Homo sapiens: one gene and its partners. The protein of the gene in region 2 purifies or fractionates together with the protein of the main gene of each other region. This does not show direct contact. Each region holds a gene or a part of one and is shown on either strand. Other genes may lie near its edges.

Region 1 (7,252 bases), on a different chromosome or scaffold from region 2:
CGCGCTGGCCAACTTTCCTACTTTTCAATTTGAGTTTACTCAGGGGTTGGAACATTTATTCCAACAAAATGTGCCTGATGTAACCTCTCAGTGATTAAGCACGCCTGCTTAGTATGCATCAACTTCAGCGCAGTATGTGCACCTCTCTGAGGACATCTCTACTAAGCCCTCAGTGACTGATGCTGCTTCACTTTCTTCAGGTGTATAAATTGAAAAGGCAATTTTTACCTGCTATGAAGTCCCAAGAAAACGGGACTTGGCTCCTTGGGCATATTAGCCTTTAGTCTTGTTAGTGATGATCAGATGTTGCTTGAGCATATTTGGAAAATAACTTTGTATGTTGAAATTTTGGGAAATCAAAGTATTATACTGCAAATCACTTGAAAGAGGGCAAATACCAAATGGTAAAGCTTAGCCAGATGTGATATAATCATTTCACTGAAGATATGAGATAGGTAAAATTTTTTTCTTATAGGTAATGAACACATTTGATTGTAATTTGAGTTAAAGTATTATAGTCCCTTTTAAAAAAAAAGCCCAGAATGTTAAAAGTGTGAACTCCATTTCAGCAAGTTGAAAACATTTGAGTGTTTAAGATATTATCACAGGTCTGCGTATTCCAGGTTCAACTTACTAGGAATTCTGGATTCTAAGTATTTTAAATTGAAGTTAAAGTGAAATCAAGTGTAAATTAATCTGTGATTTTTTTTTCGTTCTGGTTATTTTTAGGTAAATAAATGAGGTCAGGATGTGAGACTGGCGAATAATATATGCTGAGATAACCCATTACTGTGATTGAATTCCAGGAGGAAATTGAAGAGGGGTGATGACGCAAAGGTGAATACAGACAACATGAAAACGGCTAATACATGTTGGGAAACTTTTTTTTTCATTTCTTTTTCTTTTTCTTTTTTTTTTTTTTTTTGAGACGGAGTTTTGCTCTTGTTGCCCAGGCTGGAGTGCAATGGCACGATCTTGGCTCACTGCAACCTCCGCCTCCCCAGGTTCAAGGGATTCTCCTGCCTCAGCCTCCCAAGTAGCTGGGATTACAGGCACCTGCCACCATGCCCAGCTATTTTTTTTCTTTTTTTTTTTTTTAGTACAGACGGGGTTTCACCATGTTGGCTAGGCTGGTCTGGAACTCCTGACCTCAGTCGACCCACCTGCCTCGGCCTCCCAAAGTGCTGGGATTACAGGCGTGAGCCACCGTGCCCAGCCCAAGTGAAAAACTCTTTACCACAATTAATAGGTGAGTTCATTAGGGATGATAGCACACCCTTCAGAAACCGTATTTACTACAGATCTCCCACAACTATCACACTCAATACTAACTAAAAGGCCAGAGGATTGGATTCATATAACTTTTTTAAAAGTACACATATATTTTATAAATATAAGGATATTATTTGCACTAGCAATTTATCTGTATTCCTAAAGTGTCATACAAATGATTCTTGCAAATCTGTTTTAACTAGGGAGAAAACAATGTATTGAGATAGTTGGACTAGACCTATCTACCACTAACACTAAACTTGGAAGAAAAGATCCAAGAGTTCATAGCTTAATTCTAAACCATCTATGCTTCTCACTTGAAAACAGAGAAGGGCTGATGTAAATGAGTTGTGAGGGTATCTGACTACCTTAAAAGCAGAATATTTGAAGGTTTTAGCCCTGGAAGGATTCCTAGGTGAGAAGGCAGCACCTATTTCATATTCTACTTTTGGTTGCCTCCTGGCTTTTGTTTTGTGACCTCAACCAGACTCCTTGTGTAGGTTACAATTTATTTGTGGATGTGAACCCGGGCTCCTTTTGTAGGTTATAGTTTATTTGTGGGTGTGAACCCCCTTCCTTTGCCTGGTTCAATTTCTTCAGTGGTTTAGGAAAGACACCCCTCCAAGCAGTGGCCTGTTTTAAATCCGTAGGCCTCTCTTCCTACCACTCACTTCTTGGCCCAACCCCCCTTCACATTCCTCTGCTTGGGAAGATATTGGGGCAAAAAAGGCCTCATACATTTTTTATTAAGAAACCATTTTCTCTCTAGGATGGGCACAAGGTGCAGGGCTATTTCCTTACATTAGAAGGTATTTTAAAACCTGGGCTGGAGACGCCATGCTGTAAATTTAAAATAAAAAAAAAATGTAAGCCGAACCTTCTTTTTAACCTTAAGAATAGTCTTCACTATTCTCCACCACCTTCCCACCGGCTGTGTAGAAATAACGACCACCAAATGAGAATAGGCTATTTACTCAGAGCTGGCAAGAGTCAGCCGCGACCCATCACTTGATTTAACAGACTCATAGGCAGGCAGGGGAGTGGAAAAGCTTTACATATACTGAAAAAAGGGAGAAACTTCAGGTTGGCTCTGATTGGAGGATGTTGGCATCGGGAAGTTGGAGGAGGGCTATACTAGAAGCAGGGCTTCTTACGCGATTGGTGTGAGGAGCACATTTGGCTTTCTCTGATTGGCCCAGAGCTGGAAGCAGGGGCAAGAAATAGGGAAGCTGCCGGTTAAAGATTAAGTCCTGACCCTTCTGGCCGATTACTGAAGAGGTTATGGGTAGGAGGTCATGGTTAGGTTTGGCCATTCTTTGTATATTCAGTCTCTCAATTGGGTGAGGATTAGATTTTGTTTCTCTTGACCTAGCTAGCTTTTAGCTCCAAAGTTTTGTTTAACTTGGAAGAAGACAGCAGTTCTATTATTTCTGTCAAGGATAAACACAGACATTGGGATCTGAAAAGTATTATGGGAACATACATAAATATCTTCATAGTGAGGGTCAGGCCGGAGAGTCACCCTTTGCCTTAAGCTTCTCCATTTCCTTACTGAATTCCTATTTCTATTATAACTGACGCTTCACTAGCTTCCCTCCCTTTAGTGGAGGGCCCGGCCTCCTCCGCCCCTACTTTCTTCAGTCTTGCCCTTCGAGGGCAGGAGAAGACGGTTGCGCCCTACTAACTCTTCACCTTACAGTCCAGCTTCTCCCCCCACCACCCCGGTGCGCTCTCTCGGTTTGCTACCCTCTCCACCAGGCCTCCCCACTCCACCTGCGCAACGCCCCCAGCTCCGTGCTCTCCGGAGTAATCCCCCCTCAGTCGCACTCTCACAGCCCGGCCCCTGCCCCCGCCTCACCCCCAGTTGTGCCTTCACCTCCCGGTTCCTCCTAGACAGGTCCCCCAAGATACGCCCTCACAGTCCGGTCCCCCGCCGTCCTCTCCCGGCGCACGCTCAAGTCCGGTGCCTTCCCCCCGCAGACCCCCGAGGCGCACCCTCAAGCTCGGTGCCTCTGCGCCCCCCGCAGGGGCGCCCTCAAGCCTGGTACCCTTCACATGAGAGCCCCCCGGGCGCACCCTCAAGCTCGGTGTACCCCCCCATACCACCCGCAGGCGCGCCCTCATGCCCGAAGACTTCCCCCGCCCAGGTGCACCCTCAAGCCCGGTGCCTTCCCCCACAACCAGCGCCCCCAGGCGCACCCTCAAGCCCGGAGCCTACCCGCCGCCAGGCGCGCCCTACAGGCTCGCCCCGTCCCACCGCGCAGCGCCCCCCGCGCACTCTCTGGAGTCCTCCCTCCTGCCTGGTGCGGCCTCCGGGCCCGGTCGGCCCCCCTTCCTGCCCCCACACTCAGACGCGCGCCCGGCGTCTCCGGGTCGCTAGTTCCGCGCCTTCCTGCATGGAGGCGCGCCCCGAGAGGCTCGGACGCGGCCCCTTAGGCCCGGCATCAGCCTCCCCGGCCAGCTGGAGAAGTCAGGTCAGCTTCCTGTCCCCGAGCAGCTGCCCGGGGGCCAGTTTTCAAAACATATCCTTAGTCATGTAATAAAGAGATGTTCCTCTGGTCTCAACTCCCGATTTTTACTTTGGAGGGGCGAAGGCAGGCCTACCCTTGCCAGCCACCATTTCTCAATCACGTCGCGGCTGTGGAAAAGCAGCCGTCCTGTCCCTTCAGAAAGGAACTCGTATTTCCCCCTCGAACTTTTCTCGTCGGTGTGAGAGAAGGGCCCTCCATTTTCTCCTCAGGAAGCTTTCGCGGCCCGACTTCCTCTCACCACCAGGCCAGGAAGGCAGTGACGCCGCGGCGAATATAGCCGCGGCGGCCGAGGTTTCGCCATCTTGAGTGGAGGAGGAGCCGCGGTCGCCGCCATGCGGAGAGGCAGGGAAAGAGGGAGGAGGCGGCGGGCGGGCGAACGGGCGAGCGAGGGAGGGGGCAGAGGAGCCGAGTTAGCTCAGCCAGGCGGCGACTTCGGCGGCGCCACGAGAGCGGGCAGCGGAGGAGGTAGGGCTGGACAGCCGGGGGAGCCGGCGGCTCGGGCGGCTGGCCTGCGCGCCCCTCGGAGCGGGGCGGGGGCGGGGGCGAGAGGAGGCCGTAGCGAGAGGGCTGGGTGGGGGCGGGCGGAGGTTTCCGAGGAGGAAGGAGCGTCCGCCATTTTGGGAGCTTCGAGTCAACAATAAAGGACCGAGGGTGCCGAGCGGGAGTGGCCTCGTTGGTAGGACACGGGCCCGAGTCGCGAGGCTTGGGGTGAGGTGGTGGGGTCGAGGTCAGCGGTGCTTTGGGGGCTGTGGGGAGCCCCCCGGGCCGGCTCTGGGGGACTCTCGGGCGGAGGCCTAAGGCCTGGCCGGGCCTGGGGAGGAAGGCGGTCGGCAGCTGTGTGGGGTGGGAGCGCCTGAGAGGAGGCGAATATAGGAATGTGGTGCGCAGCAGGGTCGGCAGGAGGAACAGGCTAAGTACTCGGAGTAGCTTTATCGAAGATGAGGGAATATGAGGCCGAAGGGGGCGGCAAGGACTTAGGGGGATGATGGTGGAGGTTATAGGGTACGAGGCGGCCCTATAGGGGGCGGCAGGGACATGCTGTATTGGAGGGCTCGGTTTAGAAGCAAACCGGCCGCTGCTTGATTGCAGTAGGCCTTGCGGGTCAATAACAAGAGGGTATTTATGGAGCCCCCGACTCTTGGAGGAAAGGAGGGGGATTTCTGGTTTAGGGGGTCCATTTGGGGCCTCCTTGGGGGAGTCCCTATTGTTTGCTACTAATGGAGCGGTTGCTGGCTCATATTGCGCAGATAAGATTGCAGAGCCCCAACCTTTTGTGTTTATGGTCAGAAGTGTGTGTGTTTGGGGCGTGGGGCGGGGTGCGGGGGGACAAGAAATTTCCTTTCAGTTACGGGGTTCCAGTCATTAGTCAATGACTCTTTCCCGTATCTCTCTCCTTTCTCTTCCTCAGCCCCCATTTCCCTTCAGAATAAAACCCAGTCACTCCAACTTGCAGGCAAAGCTAGAAAAACTGCGCTGCATTTGCAAACAAAAGCTCTTGTTGGCGATGACGATACTGTTTTGGGTGTGAAACTGTCAATTGCTAACTACGATCTGTGAAGTGCTGTAATTAACTCCGCTAGGGGCTCCTCCCAACTAGTCTACGTTTCTTGTTGTTTGTTTTTTGTTTTTTTGTTTTTTGTTTTTGAAAATGTAGAAAACTTGCAAATCTAAATTGGGAAGGGGTAGGAGGAATATTTCCTTCTCTGAGAAAAAGCTGCAGTGCAGGTTTCAGTTTAAGAAGGGAGCAGTTATCACATAGTCTCATTTTGGATTTAAGGATATAGGAGGTCTTACTGTGCATGATGGACAGTAATGATGATATCGTTCGGTCTTTAGAGGTTGCCCTTTTCATCCTCTTAGTGCTCTGCAAACAGCTAAGTCTCTGTGAACTGCGTGATATCGCTGATCATAATATAAAACCGTCAATACAGGAAAGTAGCTGTTAACCATATCTGCTTAAGAGGTCAGAGTCTGAAGTAAACAGCTTTGTGTATGTGATAATCAGGATTTGCTTGTGAGCAACTTGTTCATTTTTTTTTTAAGGAAGGCATAATCAAGGAGCATTTTCTTCATAAATGTTGAGATCTGTTGACTTTAAAATTTTGAGTTTCACATGCCTTGGTGTATGGCAGAAAGAATCAGCACTCGTAAGCTAGTGTATTTTATATAAGAAATGTAACGGGGTTGCTGGGAGCGGTGGCTCACACCTGTAATCCCAGCACTTTGGGAGGCCAAGACAGGCGGATCAGCTGAGGTCAGGAGTTCGATACTAGCCTGGCCAACATGGCAAAACCCCGTCTCTACTAAAAATAGAAAAAATTTAGCTGCGCGTGGTGGCAGGCGCCTGTAATCCCAGCTACTCGGGAGGCTGAGACAGGGGAATCGCTTGAACCCAGGAGGCGGCGGTTGCAGTGAGCCAAGATTGTGCCACTGCACTCCAACCTGGGCGGCAGAGCGAGACTCCGCCTCAAAAAAAAAAAAAAAAAAAAAGTGTAACGGGGTTAAATCAAAAGCCAACAGAGTAGGGCTTTGTTTTCGTGTCTTTGTATGTTTTTATTAACTCCAATTAAAAGTAAGATTTCAGCCGGGCACGGTGGCTCTCGCCTGTAATCCTAGCACTTTAGGAGGCTAAGGCGGGCAGATCATTTGAGGTTAGGAGTCCAAGACCAGCCTGGCCAACTTGATAACACCCCGTGTCTACTGAAAAATACAGAAATTAGCCAGACCTGTAATCCCACCAAGCTACTTGGGAGGCTAAGGCATGAGGATCGCTTGAACCTGCGTGGTGGAGGTTGCAGTGAGCTGAGATCGGGCTACTGCACTCCACTCTGGGCAACAGAGTGAGACTCTGTCTCAAAAATAATAGGCCGGGCGTGGTGGCTTACGTCTGTAATCCCAGCACTTTGGGAGGCCGAGGCGGGCGGATCACCTGAGCTCAGTTGTTCAAGACCAGCCTGGCCAACATGTCGAAACCCCGTCTTTACTAAAAATACAAAAATTAGCTGGGCATGGTGGCGCATGCCCGTAATCCCAGCTACTCAGGAGGCTGAGGCAGGAGAATGGCGTGAACCCAGGAGGCGGAGCTTGCAGTGAGCTGAGAGCGCGCCATTGCACTCCAGCCTGGGTGACAGTGCAAGATTCTGTCTCAAAAAATACAATAAAAAATAAAAGTAAGTAAGATTTCCATTTACGGGATAATTTTAAACTGAGGTTGACTAGTTTTGTGGGTTTTGTTTGTTTGTTTGCTTTGTTTGTTTTTAAGTCAGAGTATTGCTCTTGTTGCCCAGGCTGGAGTACAATGGCATGATCTGGACTCACTGCAGCCTCCACCTCCTGGGTTCAAGTGATTCTGCTGCCTCAGCCTCCTAAGTAGCTGAGATTACAGGGCCACCACGCCCAGTTAATTTTTGTATTTTAGTGGAACGGAGTTTCACCGTGTTGGTCAGGTG
Region 2 (7,107 bases):
TTTTACCTCTATTTGATACTGATCAAGGAACACAGCTACATAACCACTACCAGGATTTTCTTCTGAAACCTCCAATTTTAAAATTGATGGGAGGCAATCCTTGCCTAGCTTATTTTACAAAGGGGTAAAGTGGTGGTAAGCATACAATCAATACCAGAAATAATCATGATCATCACTTCAACTTAAATTCAGAGGAAGAATGAAAATGTACTCCCAAAGAGCTCTGTTAGGGGTCTTCTGGAACTGTCAAGTTCAGAAATCACCAGTGGGTGTCTCTATGAACTCTCTATTACAGAAAGGAAGGCATGGGAGGAAATAAATGATTTTTTAAATGGGATTAAGTGTTTTCATACAAGAATGAGAATTTGATTCTGCATGTATTTCATTATCACAACAGGATCTCACCTCTTTAATAGTACAGCTACTATAGCATCTCATAATTTAGAAAATAGGCCCAGGGGATAAATGTGCCAACTGCTCTAAAGCAACTTCTGTAAGAGAAGTCAAAATAAATCACTGCCAGCTCCATTCCCTGTAACAAGCCTCCCACCCCCCACCCACCATGAGTTTTACATGCTTTTTGTAATTCGCTACTGAAGAAAGCCTTCAACATTCTAGGATCTGGGAGGTTTTTGTTTTGCAGGGGATAAGGGAGGCATCCCATTCTTGAGGAGTTAGATTTGGAGAAAAGACTAAAAAACAGCAAAGGATTTTTTTCTCAATTTAATGTTTTGTTTAATTGAGAGTTCCATTAGAGACTTAGAGTATAGTAAGAAATCCTTGAAAATACAAACTTATATTTGGTCTGGATGTACAAAAGAAAATATTTGTATGATTTGTTCCTCTTCCATAGTTAAAAAAAAACCCTACTAAAAATTCCCCAAATCAATCATTAATACTTACTAATACATCTTTTCTGTCACTTCTCCAAAGAATCATAATGCGTGTTGTGAGAGATGAGTGAGAACGCACCCTGTGTGCATGGCACATAGTACAGTGCAACCCTATGGCTTTTGTTGTAAACTTCAGAATCCTCAAGAGTGCTCATACTCTACCCAATAAACTTGCCTGGGGGCATGCTCTGGTGCTCTGGATGTTTGGGAGCATAATGTAGACTCATATACCAACGGTTCTTGGGTACTCCACTGCTCTTCTGAGACTGTGAAGAACCTGACCTCCTTGTCACCAAGTGTGCTGGCCTTGCCTCCCATTCCTTCCTTCCACCTCCCATTGTTGCCTCCACTGGAACAGACCTTCCTCCCCTGCAGCTGAGCTCCCTCCTGCCCAGCATACACAGACCTCCATCATGCCCACACTTTGCCCCAAATGGGCCTCTCTGTGCTGTTCTAGTCCTGCTTTTATCTTTCCAGCTGACTCATCTGTATCCTTGCTGGCCCTCAAACCTAACCATAAACCCTCATCGGTTCCTCTTTATACTCACTCCTTCAGGGAACAGCTTTTATTTCATGGTTTCAACTACCAAATTACTTCAGACAACTCTAAACCATCTCCAGCCCTGCCCTTACTCTGAGGGGCTGGCCACCTCCACCCAAGTGTCCTGCTACCAGTTCCAAATCATTACTTCAAAGTAAAATGAGGGCTGATCCTCAAGCCACATTCTTGACCTCCTGTCTTTCTTTTCCACCAATGCTTCTGTCATTCTCAATCTTCCATGTTCAAAATATTGTCATTTTTAAAATTTCACCATTGCAATACCCTTTCCATTTCAATTTCTATTATTCTAATCCCAACTCTCATCATTTCATATCTACCCCACTGCAATAATCTTCTCACTGTCCTGACTCCAATTTCTTCCAGAACTAGTGCGTCCCCATGAAGTGAATACACTGACTTTCCCCATACATTTTCTCTATTACTCTCCTGTTCATAAGCCTTCAATAACTTCCTACTGCTAAGAAAATAATCTCAAAATCCAGAGTCTGCCATTCCAAGCTAGCAAATCTCTTTACACTTGCTAACTACTATAAACCAGTATAAGCCCTCTGCACCACATCTCCCTCACTGTCCCTTTAACACACCAGGTTCTCCGCCCCTGCTTTTGCCATTCTTCCTGTTGAGACTGCCTTCCCTCTCCTCTATGCAAGCTAAGTTCCACCATATTCCTGAGGCCCAATTCAAGACACATCACTCTATAAAGCAGGGGTGTCCAATCTTTTGGCCTTCCTGGGACACCTTGGAAAGGGAAGAATTGTCTTGGGCCACACATAAAATACACTAATAATAGCTGATGAGCTAAAAAAAAAAAAAAAAAAAAAAAAAAAAAAAAAAAAAAACAACAAACTCTTCTAATGTTTTAAAGAAGTTTACGAATTTCTGTCAGGCTACATTCAAAGCCATCTTGGGCCACGTGTCCTATGGGCCGTGGGTTGGACAAGCTTGCGATAAAGCCTTCCATGATCACAGCAGCCCATTCATTGCTCAGAATCTATCCACTGGCACTTAGGATACTCTATCCTGTATTGTGGCTTACCATAAACATGAATATATGTGGAAAGAAAATACACTTGTGTGTGTGTATTTCCTGTCTCCCCAGTGAAACAGATACCCCTAGAAAGGTTTATATTAGGTCTTTTAATTTCATCTTTGTACCCTCATTGAAGGTGATGACCTTTGGCTATGACATTTTATGTGAATGTTTATGTGAATGAAAAGTTTATTTATTGAGCCAATATACATAATGTATGTCTCTATATGCACTCGTAATTTGATATTAATATCTGATAACAAGAAATGACTAAAAACATGAGTTTATTAAATCTATCCTGAAACATATTCTATTGACTAGACAATGGAGGACTGAAAGACATCTTCAATTTTGGATCATGCTTTTTTAAAGAGTCAGGGGTGGGAGAAAAGTGATCAACAGCCAGGTGCGGTGGCTCACGCCTGTAATCCCAGCACTTTAGGAGGCCAAGGCGGGTGGATCACGAGGTCAGGAGTTTGAGACCAGCCTGACCAACATGGTGAAACCTCCGTTGCTACTAAAAATTAGCTGGGCGTGGTGGCGCATGCCTGTAATCCCAGCTACTCAGAAGGCTGAGGCAGGAGAATCACTTGAACTCAGGAGGCAGAGGTTGCAGCAAGCCAAGAGCTGTGATCGTGCCACTGCACTCCAGCCTTGGTGACAGAGCGAGACTCCATCTCAAAAAAAAGAAAAATGATCAATGAAACCCTTTTCCAAATATTAACTGAACAATCTAGTATTTCTGATAGTGTTCTTCTAGCTCCTTGCCAATGCATTATATTCAAGAACTTTGTGCCATTCACTTGAATCAAAGAATATTTAATCTATTTTAAACAGTGCCCAGTCAATGATTTAAGTTCATCTACATTGAAGTTTAAATTATATTCTGAAATTAGTATTCATCACGATATACCAGGTGACATTATTTGGTATTCCCTTCTTCGTGTCAACTAATAATTTCAAAACTGAGATTTAATTCTTTTACTTCTTTTTGAAATAAAACTGCATGCACTTGAAGAAGAGTGACACAACGGAGCTAAAATATTATTTTGAAGATTAGTTTCTTTATAAAAGTGAAACACTCTTACCTTGTATAAACAAATAAGGTTCCTTCCACATCAGTTTTCTCCTAAACAATAAAAACAAAACACACAAGACATGTATGTTCTCTTCAATTCACAAAGGTATAAAACAAATTCTCATAGAATAGGAATTATATATAACTTCAATGGGCCAAATATACCCAACATGAGGAGTTATTCTCAGGAAAAGGAGAAAGCAAGTTCTATGTCATCATTGTGCCTCTGCAGATTAGGCAGCAGGAAGCAGTCTTTCTTTTGTCATTTATAAAACAAATCATCATTATCTCTCTTTACCAAATACAGGGATAGCAGCATACCCTTAGCTGAAACAATGAGAAAATAAGTGTGCTATGCGGATTTAATTAGAAAGAAGAGTGCTGCCTTTTTCTCCTTCCACCACACTGGGTATAGAGAAAGCTGCAGACATCACTGGTGTCTGCATTTCACTATCCTTCATTTTGTTTTCTGGGTTCATTTTCTCCTGCCATATCCAGTGACTTAGGAGAGCAGATGATCTGTCAATAACTTTACTTTGACTGCTAGACAGAGAGGGCAATGATGCCACAGAGTTCTCAGATGAATCAATCACCTACTTAGTGTAGTATATTTACAGTCAAGGTCTGACCCGAGATCACTGAAGTAAAGTTACACAAGTATTACCAAGTTAGGACTCAAGAAATCTGCCTGAGAAAATCTGGGAGAGGTGGTAAAGTTAAAATGATGGTTTAACTAGGTCACTTCACATTTCTTTTCCATTTCTCCAAAGGCAGGAAGCTAGGCCATTATAATATTCATCCATATAATGCATACTAAAAAACACACATGTAAGTATCCAGGTGTTTGACTAACCACGAACCAGACCTACTGTAATTCAGAATTTAAAATGTACTTTTGCAATTTACATGGTTTAATTTCAGCATTCTATTTAAACCCCTGATATTTTATTATTAATATTCATCACCATAATCATTCAAAATTTAAGTACTCTGTAATTCTGGTGAAAAATACGCCCTTTTAAAAAAAGCGTAATGTCAAAACAGCAGTTTTTAAAAGGCACACAAGGCATGATCCTTTCACATGCTCAGGCAATTTCAGCAAATTTCTCATTCACTTTAGTTCAGTGGGTCTCAAAGTGTTATCCCCAGATCAGCGGCATCAGCGTCACCTGGGAACTTATTAGAAATGCAAGCTCTTGGGCTCCTGCCCAAACCTACTGAATCAGAAACTCTGGGGATGGTGCTCAGCAATCTGGGTTTTATTAAACTGTCCAGGTGATTCTGATGTATGCTAGTTTGAGAGCCACTCACTGCCTTAGTTCAACAACATACTCTCTGCCCATGAAATTATATTACAAGTCCTGAAAACAAAATCCATTATGGCACAAATCATATCAAGCTATTATCAAGAGTAAATGGCTATAAAAAATCATTACCTAGTAACAAAATATTTAATCTCAAGATGTTTATTATTATGGAATATGAAATTATAAATAAAGAATTTAGACCAGGCACAGTGGCTCATGTCTGTAATCCCAGCACTCTGGGAGGCTGAGGCAGGCAGGAGGATCGCTTGTGGCCAGGAGTTCAGTTTGAGACCAGCCTGGGCAACATAGTGAGACCTTGCCTCTACAAAACAAAAATTTTTTTAATTAGCCAGGTGTGGTGGCACATGCCGGTAGTCTCAGCTACTCAGGAGGCTGAGGAGGGAGGATTGCTTCAGCCCAGGAGTTTGAGGCTACAGTGAGCTATGATTGTACCTCTGCATTCCAGCCTGGGCAACAGAGGGAGACCCTGTTTCTTATAAATAAATAAATAAATAACAATTAAAACAACTTTAGCCAGTTTTTTCCCTAACATAAAAGCATAGGTAAGTCAGGGAGTTCATCCTTAAACTAGATTCACTATGAAGTTTGTATAAATCACCACAACATACTGTGAAACATATCCTTATTTCTGAAATGTGGCTCGTTTGCCCCTGTACTTTGAAAAATATCCAAGTCAAAATGAAAAAATATATATACAGAAACATTACTTATCTTTCTTTGAAAACAAACATGGTTAATTCCTATCTGCTGACAAATGTATATCCTGAGTGTACCTGAAGCACTAAGAATTACTTACACCCAAACCACCAAAGTATTAATCAGGAAAATGGCCCCTACAGTACAGTAAATGCTACCTGAACAGTATACAAATTTTTGGCTGTCCCTAAAGTTTAACTGATTCAGTCAGCAAGTATTCACAAGTCCACAAAGCATTTAAAAATAAATTTGTAGAAAGTATTTGGTATTATCCATTACATTGTTAGGAAACTGAGCCAAGATACAGGTGATAGAACTAGGACTTTGCAGAACCTCTATGTAGTCAGGATCACTCCCCACAAGATCAAAACACTCTCCTGGTCTTCCAGTATCTGACCTTGGACTGTTTCATCTTAGAGATCTGAATAAGGATATCTATATATATCAGCACACATAAAACTAAATAGCTTCTGACTTGTTTCCTTTCTTCCTTGATGTAACAGAAATTCTCTTTTCTTAATTAAAAAAAAAAAACCTTTAATGCCACATTTTAGTTTTTAAATTCCAAGGTCAAAAATGTAAAAGGCATGCTTCTCCTAAAATTAATCTCTAACTTATAACAAGTAATTCTTAAAACTAAGATTTTTATTTAGCATTACACACAAAGAATATGAGTTTGTTCATAGGAAGGAGTTGTGTTTCAGTAATCACAACCTGGGACCTGTAGTGGGGTTCTTGCCAGATCATGCTGGGCTAATTAGTTTATTATTATATGTCTCAGTTTCTCCATTGAAAAGAGATAACCAGGCCGGGCACAGGGGCTCACGCCTGTAACCCCAGCACTTTGGGAGGCCGAGGCGGGTGGATCACCTGAGGTCAGGAGTTCAAGACCAGCCTGGCCAACATGGTGAAACCCCGTCTCTACTAAAAATGCAAAAATTAGCCAGGAGTGGTGGCAGGCGCCTGTAATCCTGGATACTCTGGAGGCTGAGGCAGGAGAATAGCTTGAACCCAGGAGGCAGAGGTTGCAGTGAGCCATGGTCACGCCATTGCACTCCAGCCTGGGGAACAAGAGCGAGACTTCGTCTCAAAAAAAAAAAAAAAAGAGAGATAATCAGCTTACACTACTCAGATCTTTTGATGAAAAAACGTCAGGCGCTCTATGACACCTGGATAAAAGAGACTTTGAAAATATACATTTCTGTTCTATTACAGCTGCCCAAATTCACGCATTTTCCTGGCCCCTCCATAGTTATCCAAGGGCAACCAGATTTTTTTTTTCTTTCTGAGCAAAGTCCAGGGTTAGGGATGTGGAGAATAGCTAAAACAAGATTAGATGTTCCTTAGATCCTTTAAGGAGGACTTTTATGTGAAAGTATTAGTTACCAGTCCTGGGGTATTTTAGCTTAAATTTTAAAAGTACAATTTGAGGATTTAATATTATACTGTATTATAAAATCTAACAAGTGCTAAAGAAATAAGCAATTCAGAATTCAAAATACTAAAAAACCCAAAATGGA
Region 3 (7,263 bases), about 110 Mb from region 2:
ATTTTCATATAAAGCTTAAGCCTTCTGAAGTCCAGAGAAAAGGTAGTTTCCATAAATAAATAAATAAAATAAAAATAACTAAATAAACTTACCACATCACCCAACAATTTCGTTTGTAGGAACCAACCCAAGATAAATGAAAACATATATCCACATGAAGATATATGTTCACAAATGTTCATAGCAGCATTATTATTTTTCTTTCTTCTTCTTTGTGTGTGTGTGTGTGTGTTTTAGCAACTCTATTAACTGAACGAGACAGGGTCTTGGTCTGTTGCCCAGGCTAGAGTGCAGTGGCGCATTCGTAGCTCACAGCAACCTCGATCTCCTGGGCTCAAGCGGTCCTTCTGCTTCAGCCTCCCTAGTAGCTGGGACTATAGGTGCGTGTCACCATGACCAGCTAATTTTTTTTTTTTTTTTTTTTTGGAGACAGAGTATTGCTGTGTCACCCAGGCTTCAGTGCAATGGTGCAATCTCGGCTCACTGTAACCTCCGCCTCCTGGGTTCAAGCAATTCTCCTGCCTCAGCCTCCCAAGTAGCTGAGATTACAGGTGCCCGCCACCACGCCTGGCTAATTTTTTGTATTTTTAGTAGAGACGGGATTTCACCATGTAGGCCAGGCTGGTCTCGAACTCCTGATCTCAGGTGATCCACCCACCTCGGCCTCCCAAAGTGCTGGGATTATAGGCATGAGCCACCACGCCCAGCCAACCAGCTAATTTTTTATTTTTAAAGTTTTTCATAGAGACAGGGTCTCTCTATGTTGCCCAGGCTGGTTTCAAACTCCGGGGTATTCAAGTGATCCTCCCATCTCGGTATCCTAAAGTGTTGGGATTACAGGAGTGAGCCACCAATCTCAGCCCCAGCAGCATTTTCATAATACTCAAAAAGTTGACACAATCTAAACATCCACAATTGGAAAGTAGACACAAAATGTGGTATGTCCATACATGGAATATGACATAGCAATAATAAGGAATGAAATACTGCTACATGCCACAACCTTAGATAAACCTCAAAAACATTATGACAAATGAAAGAAGGCAGACACAAAAGGCTGCATGCTGTAAGATTCTACTTATGTGAAAAATCTGGACAAATCCATAGAGAGAAAATGTAGATGAGTGGTTGCCTGGGGCTAAGGATGGGAACCAAACTGCCCACCATCGTGAAGGATCTTTTTGGGGTAATGGAAATGTTCTGAAATTAGTGGCAATGGTTGTGCAAATTTACTGTGTAAATTTACTGAGAATCATTAAATTGTACACAAAATAGGTGAATTTCATAGTATGTAAATTATATCTTGATAAAACTATTAAGTTTTTATTCAATGGTAGTGAGTTAAAACAAACTTTCTCAGCTATGTCAGCTTCAGGCCTTCTTTTTTTTTAATTTTGAAAAATTTTTTATGGAGAGGAGGGTCTCACTATGTTGCCCAGGCTGGTCTCCTACTCCTTGGTTCAAAGGATCTGCCTGCCTTGGCCTTCCAAAGTGCTGGGATTATAGGTGTAGGCCACTGTATCCAGCCTAGGCCTTCTTATTCAACTTCCATCGACCTGAAACTTACTATTTTTTTTTTGAGACGGAGTCTCGCTCTGTCGCCCAGGCTGGAGTGCAGTGGTGTGATCTCCGCTCACTGCAAGCACCGCCTCCCAGGTTCACACCATTCTCCTGCCTCAGCCTCCCAAGTAGCTGGGACTACAGGTGCGCATCACCACACCCAGCTAATTTTTGTATTTTTAGTAGAGATGGGCTCTACTAAAAATTGGCCAGGCTGGTCTCGAACTCCTGACCTCAGGTGATCCACCGGCCACTGCCTCCCAAAGTGCTGGGATTACAGGCGTGAGCCACCACACTGGCCAAAACTTGTTCTTAAGATTGTATTCTGGGACCTTGATTCCAATCAGAGAAAAGTGATTGTATTTTTTTATTTTTATTTTTTTTAGATAAAGTTTCGCTCTTGTTGCCCAGGCTGGAGTGCAGTGGTGCCCTCTTTGGTCACTGTAACCTCCGCCTCCTGGGTTCAAGCGATTCTCCTGCCTCAGCATCCTGCGTAGCTGAGATCACAGATGCCCACCACCACGCCCAGCTAATTTTTTCGTATTTTTAGTAGCGATGGGGTTTCACCATGTTGGCCACGCTGGTCTTGAACTCCTGACCTCAGGTGATCCATCCGCCTCGGCCTCCCAGAGTGCTGGGATTACAGGTGTGAGCCACCGCGCCAGGCCAAGTGTTTGTATTTCTATTAAAGAAAGAATATAACGGGACACCATTGACGACCTGCTCCATTGCAGGCCTCCTTGCTGTTCCTCAGACTCCCCCCTCAGAGCCTTTGCCCTCGCTGTGCCCTCCACCTGGAGCGTTTCTCCCCAGGATCCTCATGCCCATGCTCATTTGGGTCCCTGCCCCATGTCACCCTCTCCAGGAGCTTCCCCTCACAGCAGCCCTGGCCTGTACCACAGCCGGGTACAGGTATTTTTTTGTTTCAACTGGTTTTTTAGTTCCAGTTTCCTTTAGGTTACTTTATTTATTTATTTATTTATTTATTTTTTGAGACGGAGTCTCGCTCTGTCGCCCAGGCTGGAGTGCATGATCTCGGCTGACTGCAACCTCCACCTCCCGGATTCAAGCAATTCTCCTGTATCAGCCTCCCGAGTAGCTGGGATTACAGGCGCCCACCACCACACCCGGCTAATTTTTATATTTTTGGTAGAGACGGGGTTTCACCATGTTGGCTAGGCTAGGTTAATTTTTAAAGGGTTTTGCAATGGTCCCTTGATCTACTTTTTACCTTAGATGGGAAATAAAACTGATTTCCTACATTGGCAGAATACAATGATCATTTTTGCCTGGACTATCTAGGAGGTTAATTTCAGTTGGACTACTGAAAACTGCTGGTTCAATCATTCTCCACGTTTATCTAAGTCTTTACCTTTATCTGGACAGTTCTAGGACATTGAGGGGAATTTTGGTGTTTCTTCCCCTATTATTTCCTGAAGTCATTTCACTTTAAAAAACAATAGATTCACTGCTCAAAAAAAAAAAAAAAAGTTACCTACTTTCTACTTGCTTCCAGTTTAACTGCAACACATTTTAAAAAGAGTCTACTGTGCTGGCTGGGTAAGTTAAATTAAAACTTCTAAAGGGTCCAAGGTCTAAAGTTCGCACATTGTTTTGAGGTCGGCTCTGTCTCTACCGAGGGAGATCCCATTATCCGTAGTTCTACCAGTCCCAATCCCATATATTTCCTTTAGAATCTCATGAATGAGGAAAAAGAAGTTCAAGTGAGGGAACATAGGTTCAAATGAAGGTCAGATACCTAAAAGAGTTTTCTGGTGACTGTGCGCGGCTGGGGTGGAAAAAGTGGGGAAAAGGTACCCAGATGTGGGTGGCCCCGGAGGGTTGCTCCACTCCAGCCCCGGCAGGGCAGGACAGCGCGGCCTGCCTGGTAGATGCCCCGAGCCACTGGAGCGCCTACTGTGTGGCGGGCGGGGGACGGCAGGAAAACGGCAGGATGCTGTGTCCCCTGAATCTGGCAGGGTTCTAGGTGCTTTACACGTAGCAAGACACATTCTCCGCCCCAAGGCACTCGCAGTCAGTCCATTTTCTGGGTTGCATCAGGTGGGGGCAAACTAGGTCCCCGCAGAAGTGAAGATGCTGAAGGAATACAGTAGGAGAAGAAATGCTTCTCTCCTGTCCTCCACACCAGGCAGGCCCCAGAGGCTGAGACCGACACGCCCTCCCCGAAGGGCAGACCCGCCTTGAGGAAGGCGGATCCGGGTAGGGACCGCCGCCTGGCCCTCACCCGACCCCCGAGAAAGCAACCCAGCGCGCCGCCCGCTCCTCACGTGTCCCTCCCGGCCCCGGGGCCACCTCACGTTCTGCTTCCGTCTGACCCCTCCGACTTCCGGTAAAGAGTCCCTATCCGCACCTCCGCTCCCACCCGGCGCCTCGGCGCGCCCGCCCTCCGATGCGCTCAGCGGCCGCAGCTCCTCGGAGTCCCGCGGTGGCCACCGAGTCTCGCCGCTTCGCCGCAGCCAGGTGGCCCGGGTGGCGCTCGCTCCAGCGGCCGGCGCGGCGGAGCGGGCGGGGCGGCGGTGGCGCGGCCCCGGGACCGTATCCCTCCGCCGCCCCTCCCCCGCCCGGCCCCGGCCCCCCTCCCTCCCGGCAGAGCTCGCCTCCCTCCGCCTCAGACTGTTTTGGTAGCAACGGCAACGGCGGCGGCGCGTTTCGGCCCGGCTCCCGGCGGCTCCTTGGTCTCGGCGGGCCTCCCCGCCCCTTCGTCGTCCTCCTTCTCCCCCTCGCCAGCCCGGGCGCCCCTCCGGCCGCGCCAACCCGCGCCTCCCCGCTCGGCGCCCGCGCGTCCCCGCCGCGTTCCGGCGTCTCCTTGGCGCGCCCGGCTCCCGGCTGTCCCCGCCCGGCGTGCGAGCCGGTGTATGGGCCCCTCACCATGTCGCTGAAGCCCCAGCAGCAGCAGCAGCAGCAGCAGCAGCAGCAGCAGCAGCAACAGCAGCAGCAGCAGCAGCAGCAGCAGCCGCCGCCCGCGGCTGCCAATGTCCGCAAGCCCGGCGGCAGCGGCCTTCTAGCGTCGCCCGCCGCCGCGCCTTCGCCGTCCTCGTCCTCGGTCTCCTCGTCCTCGGCCACGGCTCCCTCCTCGGTGGTCGCGGCGACCTCCGGCGGCGGGAGGCCCGGCCTGGGCAGGTGGGTGTCGGCACCCCAGCCCCCTCCGCTCCGGGCCCGGCGTCCCCTCCCCCGCGGCCCGCGCCGCCGTCCCCGCCCCGTGACCCGCCGGGCTACCCGGGGTGGGCTGGGGGCCGGCAGCGCGGGGGAGACTCGCTCGGGCCTGAGCCCCGAGGCTCGGCCGGTGGGCGCAGCCGGGGTCCTCTGGGATTGTCAGGCCTGTCCAGCCTCCCGCAGCATCCCCGCCCCCTCCCCCGGCGGTCAAGATGGAGGGAGCGGGCGGCCTCCCCTCCCCACGCGTGTTGGGAGGGGTTCTCGGGTAGCGGCGATGGTCAGCCCCGGCTCCCCCTTCCGCACGATCCTCCGCCCGCAGCGTGGGGATGCTCGGGCAGCTCCTCCACTCCCGGTTTAGGTGTGAACGTTGGAGGGGTCTGGAGGCTGTGGTGGCGTTTTCCGGAACATGTCCCCCTCCATGGGGGACATCTCTGGAGGGGAGAAGTTAGGGCCGCGTCCCCCGTGCCGGTTAAAGGGGTAGGCACCGGGCTCCTCCGGAATCATCAGGGTCTGTCGGGGCTCTCTCCCCGCCCCCTCCGAGTCCTGGGAAAGATCGGAGGACGGGGTGGAGACAAGTGGGCCTTGGCCCCCGCACCCCTCTGCGTTCGTGTCCGAGGCGGCGGCGGGGGCTCCCGAACTCCCCTGAAATCGTGGGGCTCCATGTGGCCTCCGGCAGCGTTCCACCCTCCCCCACCTGGGGAAGGGAAGGGGTGGGGAGTGCCCGGCCCCGTCCCGGCCTTCCTCCTTCCCCCGCCAGACCTCTCCGGCGCGCGGGTGGTGGCCGATCCGCATTGCTGTTCGAGGCCGCAGTGGAGAAGGCGCCTGTGGAACATCGGTGGGTGAGGGCTGGACCCAGGCTGGACCCTGGAGATCCGGGGTGGCGGTGCTGGTGGCAGGGGGCGGGCACCCTGCGCACTTATCCCAACCCCCGCCCCAATTTCGGAAATGCTAGGAGAGAGAGATTGCAGCAGGGGACGTGGTCGGGTTCCTGAAGGCAGAAAGGCGGGTGTTTACTAGCGTCTTTTTCCCTCCTAAGCCGGGGTTGTAGTAGGGGCTGGGGGCTCAGTGTTGTCCCGGCTAACTGGGTTTGACTCGAGGGTGTGTTTGTGCAGGAGGGCCTGTTGGGGGTGGCGGGCGGTTGTCAGTTCGTATTTCACGAACTAAGAAAATGCTTAGTGTTCAAAGGGAGAAGGAAACGTCAATAGACTCCATTCCATTGTGGCCGGTGTCCTTAACTTCGGGAGTGCCGCCAGAGCTTACCAAGGGCACGCAAGTCCATTTCCCTTGTGCCTCAAGTCCATCCGTGTTGTAGGCACTACTGTGCCTTCTTTAGGCCTAGGCCGCCGGCTTGACGGCGGGTGACCGGCGTCCTCCTTAAATAGGCATCTTGGGCTTTGGAAGGTGGAATAAGAGGATTTTTCATTCACCCGAGTTTTCTTTTTGAAAACACATTTTCAGCAACCCATTTCCAAAGAATTTTTATTTACAGCAGAAATTCCCCATCAAGAGGAATCAGCTGGTTTTTAAGGAATTCTGCTGCCTTCAAAGGGGGCGGAAACAGTCGGTTATTTGACTTTACACGCCCCGCCCCCCCTTCCCCTTCTCTGAGTCTGAAGCATCCCAAACACTACTTAGCCAAACTAGTTCAGATGAAGTGATCGTTTCCCCAAGTAGGGTAACTTCAGTTTCCCTTTTTCGTTGGCATCTAGCGAAAAATGAAAAAATTTAAAATACAACTTTTATAGAAAAGGATGTATTCTGTTTTTACTTTCTTAGGTATTAGGAAGAGATTTGGCAGATAATTCAACATGTTCAAATATATAAACATTAAAACTAAGGTTATTAAGTTGCATTGACTACTAGGCTTAAAAATTAGATTATAAGAGAATTTGCTCCTGAGTAGTTTGAGTGATCAAAGATATTTGGAATGTTTTAGTACCACAAGGTCTTTTTTCTGTTCCTTGAGGCTTTACAACAATTTAAGGTTAATTTAGATTTTTCCTTGCTTTAAGTTCTTTTACTTGAGACCTAAATGGCAGCCCTTATTCTTTCTGATGAATAGGTGAAATTTTGTTTACTGTGTTGGATTTGTGTAATGTGAAGTTTTATTCTTGAACAGATCGTTAATGTACTTGTAGAATTACTTTGAATTTGAATCACTTTCCTGCATTCCTTGTAAATAAGTTTCAGCTTCTAGAATCTCCTCACTTAGGTTTGTGCGTATCAACAGTGAAAATAAGTCTCTGAGAGCAAGGGTGAAAAAAAATGCAGCATTCGGTTTGACAAGTTTCGAGATAGCAAAATATGCTTGAAAGTCTGGAAATTCACATCTGCTTTAAGAAACATTTCATAATTTGACTTTGTGTGTGTGTGTGTGAATAGTTTTTCATGACTTTCAGAAGTGATTTATTTTGTTCTTTGTTATATATATTTTTGAAGGTGGCTGTTTTAGGAAAGATAATGTAATCACAATATTAGAACATAATTTTACTGTAATCTAATTTTGTGTGTGTGTGTGTGTGTGTGTGT

What was found.
Region 1: the proteins of DCP1B (region 2) and DDX6 purify together in Homo sapiens (affinity purification with mass spectrometry; 8 studies listed by BioGRID and IntAct, with this or other methods). This does not show direct contact.
Region 3: the proteins of DCP1B (region 2) and ATXN2 purify together in Homo sapiens (affinity purification with mass spectrometry; 2 studies listed by BioGRID and IntAct, with this or other methods). This does not show direct contact.

The regions. Positions count from the first base shown.
Region 1 is NC_000011.10:118,788,114-118,795,365, reverse strand, and holds the start of DDX6 (probable ATP-dependent RNA helicase DDX6), read left to right. Parts: upstream 1-4,201; 5' UTR 4,202-4,268; intron 4,269-4,423; exon of another isoform or gene 4,424-4,511; intron 4,512-7,252.
Region 2 is NC_000012.12:1,994,362-2,001,468, forward strand, and holds part of DCP1B (mRNA-decapping enzyme 1B), read right to left. Parts: intron 3,615-7,107; coding exon 3,574-3,614; intron 1-3,573. UniProt on the Homo sapiens protein: May play a role in the degradation of mRNAs, both in normal mRNA turnover and in nonsense-mediated mRNA decay. May remove the 7-methyl guanine cap structure from mRNA molecules, yielding a 5'-phosphorylated mRNA fragment and 7m-GDP.
Region 3 is NC_000012.12:111,596,222-111,603,484, reverse strand, and holds the start of ATXN2 (ataxin-2), read left to right. Parts: upstream 1-4,169; 5' UTR 4,170-4,450; coding exon 4,451-4,701; intron 4,702-7,263. UniProt on the Homo sapiens protein: Involved in EGFR trafficking, acting as negative regulator of endocytic EGFR internalization at the plasma membrane.